Linked DNA regions of Homo sapiens. The protein of the gene in region 1 interacts with the protein of each later gene in a pairwise test. Each region holds a gene or a part of one and is shown in the gene's direction. Other genes may lie near its edges.

Region 1 (3,924 bases):
CCACCTTGGCCTCCCAAAGTGCTGGGGTTACAAGTGTGAGCCACCTTGCCTATCCTAGCTTGGCTTTCTTACAGTGTGGATGCTAGGATCTGAGGGGGAGGATTCACATGACCTTGGAATGATCTCATTTCAAGACCCCAAGGCCTTTCTTAAACTGAGACCTGTCATGTGGCATCATTTCTTCTGCATTCTATTAGTTATAAGTGAATCACAAAGGCTAGCACAGATTCAAGAGGAGAATTAGATCCCGTCTCTCAATGAAGGTGTCAAAGAATTTCCAATCATCTTTAATTTGCCACACTAATCCCATACAGGACTTGCTATATAGTCTTCCTCTTTTTCATATTTGTACTTCCTTTCTCCAATAATGAGAAACCTCATCCCTGTGTTTATTAATATATTTCTGTTTTCCTCAATCTTAGAATGCACTGAAAGTAACTGCAGAATTGTTAAATTATACCACTCCAAAAAAAACAAACATTCAGTATTTATTTACAGCACTTTTTGTCTTCAGTCTGAGAGTATATAATTAAAATAATGTGTTAAAATGTTACTTGGTTTGGGGTTTAAAAAAATCTGCTTCAGTGTGGCTGTTATACATTTGAAACACAAATTCTACTGGTATTCCATTTTATTTCCTCTCCTTCCCTCACAGATATTTTTTTAGGGGGAGTGGGGAGGAACTAGGTCTCTGTCACCCAGGCTAGAGTGCAGTAGCACCATCATAGCTCACTGCAGCCTTGAACTCCCAGGCTCAGGTGATCCCACCTTAGCCTCCTGAGTGGCTGGGACTATAGGTATGGGCCACCATTCCTGGCTAATTTTTTGTTGTTGTTGTAGAGGCTTGGTCTCACTGCATTGCCCAGGCTGGTCTCTAACTTCTGGCCTCAAGCAATCCTCCTGCCTCAACCTCCCAAAGTGCTGGGATTATAGGTCTGAGCCACCATGCCCGGCCTATCTCGTTTTTATTCTCTTTATTGTTTTCCTGCTTTTTAAATTTTTTCAGTGGCCCTAATTAGGTTTTTTATTTAAATCTGTTTTTCTATGGACACCCAGTTATTTAGTTATAGTTATTAGTTTTTATTTCTAATATGATTTTGCCTTTTTCTTTTATTTCATTCCTGAGCTCAGTCAACTTTTGTATCATTTCTTCCAGTTTTTGTCCATGTCGGTTCTTAGTTTTTTAACTTCTTATTTAGAGAGCATTTCTACTCCTCCTCATATCTCCAGATTTTTATTTGAGAATATTTAATTTTGTTTGGAGTGTTGTGTTACAGTTTTTCTGCTTCATGGTTTGCTTTCAGGAAGGGAAATTTTTATGAGATGAAGAGTTTGGGTTCTTATTGGTTTTCTTTTCTCTTTTTTTTTTTGAGACAGAGTATCGCTCTCTTGCCCAGGCTGGAGTGCAGTGGTGCAATCTTGGCTCACTGCAAGCTCCGCCTCCCAGGTTCACGCCATTCTCCTGCCTCAGCCTCCTAAGTAGCTCGGACTACAGGCGCCGGCCACCTTGCCTGGCTAAATTTTTTTTTGTATTTTTAGTAGAGATGGGGTTTCACTGTGTTAGCCAGGATGGTCTCGATCTCCTGACCTCATGGTCTGCCCACCTTGGCCTCTCAAAGTGCTGGGATTACAGGCATGAGCTACCATGCCCAGCCTTGTTTTCTTTTTATATAGTAGTTTTGTATAGATGAGAACTGCTTGTGCCTCTGCATATCTTGGACAACACAGTCATTTGGAATGATTTATGAGATCCCAGTTCAAGAGTGTTCTCTTCTGTCAGAGTAGCAAAGTATTTTTCTTTAATGGATGACTTGGGGTGGGAGAGGAATGCAAGTTTGTTTGTTTGTTTGTTTAATTTCCTTTTGCCCTACAAGATTGTAAATTTTGTCCTTTTTTCCTCTTCCTCTCATGGCTGAGCTTCCAAAAGGCACCTCCCTTTTCACCCATTCTCTCCCCTAAAAGCATTGCCTTTCGAAGACTGCCTCCTAGAGTCCCACATGCATTTTAAATATCTTCCTATAAACAATGCTTTAATCAACCAACATTCTTTTTTCAGTATTTTTATATTTGGGTAGGCTTTTTCTCTCTGGAGGTGATCTTATTTCATTTTAGACCCTCTATTTCCCTCTTATCTTGTTCATGTGTTTTTTTTTTCTCAACCCCATCTGGATCTCTGCAAACACTTGGGTGGGAGCTCAAGAAACTGGTTTTGGCTGAGTGTAGTGGCTCACACTATAATCCCAGCACTTTGGGAGGCCAAGGCAGGAGGATCGTTTGAGCCCAAGAGTTTGAGAACAGCCTGGACAACATAGGGAGATCCAGTCTCTACAAAAAAAGCTTTTTAAATTTTTTCTAATTAAAAAAAAAAAAAGAGGCTGGGCATGGTGGCTCACACCTGTAATCCCAGCACTTTGGGAGGCTGAGGCAGGCAGATGATGAGGTCAAGCAGTGGAGACCATCCTGGCCAACATGGTGAAACCCCATCTCTACTAAAAATACAAAAATTAGCTGGGTGTGGTGGTGCATGCCTGTAGTCCCAGCTACTCAGAAGGCTGAGGCCTTCTGAATCACTTGAACCTGGGAGGCGGAGGTTGCAGTGAGCTGAGATCACGCCACCGTGCTCCAGCCAGGCGACAGAACAAGACTCCGTCTAAAAAAGAAAAAAAGGCGGGTGGGGGGGAGCGGAATTTATTCTTCCACAAATTGGTGGGCTTTTTTAAACAAGTAATTTGAGGTTCTTGATATTCTCTGTATTATAGTAATACTAACACAAGGGTTTTGTGTAGTTTACTTATTATTCTTATTGATCTATATAGCTTATTATTTGGTAAAAATTCATTGACATCTTTCATATGCCATGTTTGGAAATACTTTTTTTGCTCATTATGTTGCTTTTGAAATTAACAGTTTTAAGTTTAGGAACTTGAATAAAACTTTTATTTGAAATACTGGTAGCTTTTTAAAGCATACTAAATTTTGAGGAATAATAAAATGCATATATATAAAGGATAACATTTTTCAGGAGCTAATTAAATTTTTGCAAAATTGTCTTAGATTTTATAGATTAAAAGTTAATTTTTAAGTGGCTGAGTCTTCAATAAAACAAATCTTTGGGAGAATTAAAGCTCCTTTATTTTTGGTATACTAAAAGGCAGTGATCAGCTAAAATGGTTTTAACTAAATGCCTCATCTTCATTGACTATAATCGTTTATTCTTAAGTGGCCATTTTTCAATCTCATTATAGTTTTAATGTCTAGATTTCTGATGTGTAAGGATTCAGGTGTTCAATGGACAGTGGTAAAATTGTTGGCAATTCTCTAGCAATGCATATTTTGGCCTCACGTCTTAATTTTTTAATGTAGATGCTGTTGCATGAAAAAGCAGAAGCCCTGCAAGAAGAGGTAGAAGAGTTACTAAGATTGCCTTCTGATTTCCCTGGTGCTGTGGCTTCTTCCACTGACAAAGCATGAAGCTATCTGATGAGAATTTTCATATATGAATTATTTATTGTACATGTGTGTTATTAAAGATAACTTATACTTTATAAATGAAAAAATACATTTCAGTTATACATTAAGAACTACGAATAATGTTTGAATATACCTCTTCCCACTAACAATTCATTCTTTGGAATACTTACACATTATTTCTCTGCTAAACAGACTATAGTGTCCACCACAAAATGAAATTCAACTTCATCAACATTGTGCTCAACCTTTTTATCCAGATCTTTCATTATTCTCTTACCCATTTCTTTCATCAAATTGGACTATTTGAAATCCCCAGAATTTTTCTTAGGATTTCCAAACCCTCCATTTCCTAACTGCTTTATATTATTTCCAATGCATGAAAATTATCTTTAAAATGCACTAATACTTCAAGGATTAACTAAAAAATGCTAAAATACTGTCTCTTCTATGAAA
Region 2 (3,924 bases), on another chromosome or scaffold:
CCTCAGCCTCCTCAGTAGCTGGGATTACAGGTGCGTGCCACCACGCCCAGCTAATTTTTTTTTTTTTTTTTTGTATCTTTAGTAGAGATGGGGGTTTCACCGTGTTGGCCAGGCTGGTCTTGAACTCCTGACCTCGTGATCTGCCTGCCTCAGCCTCCCAAAGTGCTGGGATTACAGGCGTGAGCCACCGCACCCAGCCTCAACATAGCTATTCTTGTATTACATATTACTTAGCAATTATTTATGTTTAAAGTTGCAATTACAGAGTATAGAACATTTTGGATTCTGCTGTATTTTGGTCTGTGTTTTTCTTTTGAATTGTGTCTGAGAAGAGGGGCAATTTCAAAATTAAGAGAGTAACAGATCATAGCCAAAATGTCCTTTTTGAATTGTCTTTGAAAACAAATCATTCTATTTTGTGTAAGTAAATGACCCTTATAACTCTGAGAATCTTATTTTCCTCTAGGTTAGAATCTGTATTTTTTAGATCAGTTTCATTACATTGTGCTAAAACATGTATATAACATAAAATTTACCATTTTATGTTTACATATAGTTCACTGGCATTAGGTACATTCATATTGTGCAGCCATCATCATCCATTTTCAGACCTTTTTCATCTTCCCATACTGAAACTCTGTACCCATTAAATGCTAACTCATTCTTTTTTACCCCCAGCCCCTGACAATCACCATTCTACCTTCTGTCTCTGAATTTTACTCCTCTAGCAACCCCATATAATTGGAATCATATAATACTTGTTCTGATGTGACTGGCTTATTTCACTTAGTATAATGTCTTCAAGGCTCATTTATGTTGTAGCATGTGTCAGAATTTTCTTCCTTAAGTCTGCATATTCCATTGTATGTACATACCACATTTTGTTTATTCATCTGTGGATGCACACTTGGGTTGCTTCCACCTTCTGGCTATTGTGAATAAGTTACAGTGTATCAGTTTTAAAGTAATTCTTAAAAGCAGTTTTTTTTTTTTTTTTTGAGATGGAGTTTCACTCTTTTTTGCCCAGGCTGGAGTGCAATGGCATGATCTCAGCTCACCGCAACCTCTGCCTCACAGGTTCAAGCGATTCTCCTGCCTCAGCCTCCCGAGTAGCTGGGATTACAGGCATGCGCCACCACACCCGGCTAATTTTGTATTTTTAGTAGAGATGGGGTTTCTCCATGTTGGTCAGGCTGGTCTCGAACTCCCGACCTCAGGTGATCTGCCTGCCTTGGCCTCCCAAAGTGCTGGGATTGCAGGCGTGAGCCACCGCGCCCAGCCAAAAAGCAGTCTTAAAGGTTTTTGTTTATATTTGTTGCTGTTACAGTACTTGAATATAGTTAATAAGAGCTTAGAAATTTATTTCTCAGCTACTTTTAGCTTTCAGTTTTATATTAATTGTATAAGACATAATAAAATCCCACCTAAGCAGATCTTGTTCTGTCATGACTTATTTTTGGGACATAATCATTTTATATTATTATTTTTGTAGAGATGGGGGTCTCACTATGTTGCCCAGGATGGCTTCAAACTCCTGGTCTCAAGTGATCCTCATGCCTTGCCCTCCTAAAGAGCTGGGATTACAGACATGAGCCACCATGCCTAGGTGCATCATTTTAAAACAATGTCGTCCTAGCTATTTTTATTGGGTGTAATATGAGTAAGTGTTTCTCATTTGTAGTATAAGAAATTATCATAATTCTTCAGCAATAATTAAAAAAACATGATTACTGCAGACAGTTTGGAAAATATAAGCAAGCAACCTTTACCTTGTGATAACAGCTTTTAACTTCTTGATTGTAGTCTTCTATCAATTCTTTTAGATGTGCGTATACATACTTATAAATATGGGATAATACAGTATAACTATTATTTAGTATATTATTAATACTTTCCTATCTCATTGAATATTTTCTTCCACGTTTAGTTTTTAGCATAAGTAATATCTCATCATATGTAAAATAATTTATTTGAATCAGTCATTGGACTTTTAGGTTGCTTTAAAATTTCATATAAACTCTGTTATATACATACGGGTAATTTGAAGGGTGTATTTTTAATATTTCTCTCCTTTTTGTGTTCTTAGAGAAAAAATAGAATTATTAATATAATAAACCTATACATTTAAATAATGAGTTTGGTCATCTGAACTTTTAATTAATTAAGTTCATGTGTTTGTATGTATTTATTCTTTTTCTTTAAGCAGGTTGGCAACATTGTACAAGTCACCCAGCCAGAAGGAATGCACAGTACTGTTTCAAATCAAAGTCAGTATTATTTGATTAGAGTGGGATTTTGATATTGATGGGCGGTAATTATCTAAAGAGAGAATTTACAACTTGCTTCTGTCAACTTCTGTAGGCAGCAAGCATATTTGAGGACAGCTTTTGATGCTTAGAACATTGTCCCCAAAATAGTAGTATATACAGAATATTGTAGTCACAAATGGACTGAAATTTATTCTTAAGAGCAGAGGAAATACTTATTTTGGGGTAGTGTGTTCCATGCCATATGTAATGTCAGGATATTAAAAATCTTTAAAGTGAAAGTTGTTGAAGATTTCCAGAAAAGAAAAAATACTAACATTACTTATTTTGGTCTGTAGGTATTATAGATCTATTGTAGCACCAAATATAGCCCACTTTAAGATGTTAATTCTTCTGTGAATTTACATCATAGAACACACATTTTTTGGCTGAAATATGCATATTTATCAATAGTGTTGAGCCAAATATATTTTTGGCATCTCTTTTTTTTTGAGATGGAGTCTCTGCGTCGCCCAGGCTGGAGTGCAGCGGTGCAATCTTGGCTCACTGCAGCCTCCGCCCTACTGGTTTAAGCAATTCTCCTGCCTCAGCCTCCCTAGTAGCTGGGATTATAGGCGTGTGCTACCACGCCTGGCTAATTTTTGTGTTTTTAGTAGAGATGGGGTTTCGCCATGTTGGCCAGACTAGTCTCAAACTCCTGACCTCAAGTGATCCGCCCTTCTCAGCCTTCCAAAATTCTGGGATTACAGGCGTGAGCCACCGAGCCCGGCTTTATCTCATTTTTATAACAACAAAAACAGAAATAGAGATTCTGAAACTGAATTATCCACTTAGTCTTTGCAGTACCCAGGTGTACTTGAAATATCCTAGTTGGGGAAAAAAAAGAGAGAGAGAAATATCATAGTTGGAAAACTTTAGAGTATTTAATTATGAAAATAAATCTGTAAAGTACCTAAGACTTAGGTTATTTCCTTTTACTTCTAACAAAGCTATCGTAAAGTTTGTTAGGATTGACCTTTAGAGAACATTTTTATAATGCAATGTTATTTCTGTGCGTGTGTATGCAAGGGTATAAATAAGTATATATAAAATACTCTTAATATAGCCCGGGCTTTGGCACGTATCCATGAGGTTTATTCTCTTCATTCACAGTGGTTGATAAATTTCTATCTCAAGAACTTTCTTTTTTTTTGAGACGAAGTCTCACTATTTCGCCCAGGCTAGAGTGCAGTGGCACAATCTTGTCTCACTGCAACCTCCGCCTCCCAGGTTCAAGCGATTCTCCTGCCTCAGCCTCCAGAGTAGCTGGGACTAGAGGTGTGTGCCACCATGCCCAGCTAATTTTTATATTTTTGGTAGAGATAGGGGTCACCATGTTGGCCAGGCTGGTCTTGAACTCCTGACCTCATGATCTGCCCACCTCAGCCTCCCAAAGTGCTGGGATTACAGGTGTGAGCCACTGCGCCTGGCCCTAGAATAAAGTAGCTTTCTTATTAGTTACTTAAAAATATTTCTAAGATCAGTCTTCAAATGTTCTTAAAGCATATTTGTATATATATTTTTTATCTTTCAGCCTCAGGGATTTAGAGATACTGTTGTTACTTCTGCATGTTCATTGCAAACAGAAGGTTCCTTGAGCACCCGGAAACGGTCACGA

Evidence for each region.
Region 2: the proteins of HELQ (region 1) and RAD51C interact in binary tests that used the Homo sapiens proteins (3 or more experiments, as listed by UniProt).

The regions. Positions count from the first base shown.
Region 1 is NC_000004.12:83,407,000-83,410,923, reverse strand, and holds the end of HELQ (helicase POLQ-like), read left to right. Parts: intron 1-3,363; coding exon 3,364-3,471; 3' UTR 3,472-3,578; downstream 3,579-3,924. UniProt on the Homo sapiens protein: Single-stranded 3'-5' DNA helicase that plays a key role in homology-driven double-strand break (DSB) repair.
Region 2 is NC_000017.11:58,730,278-58,734,201, forward strand, and holds part of RAD51C (DNA repair protein RAD51 homolog 3), read left to right. Parts: intron 1-2,203; coding exon of another isoform or gene 2,204-2,206; coding exon 2,207-2,267; intron 2,268-3,840; coding exon 3,841-3,924. UniProt on the Homo sapiens protein: Essential for the homologous recombination (HR) pathway of DNA repair. Involved in the homologous recombination repair (HRR) pathway of double-stranded DNA breaks arising during DNA replication or induced by DNA-damaging agents.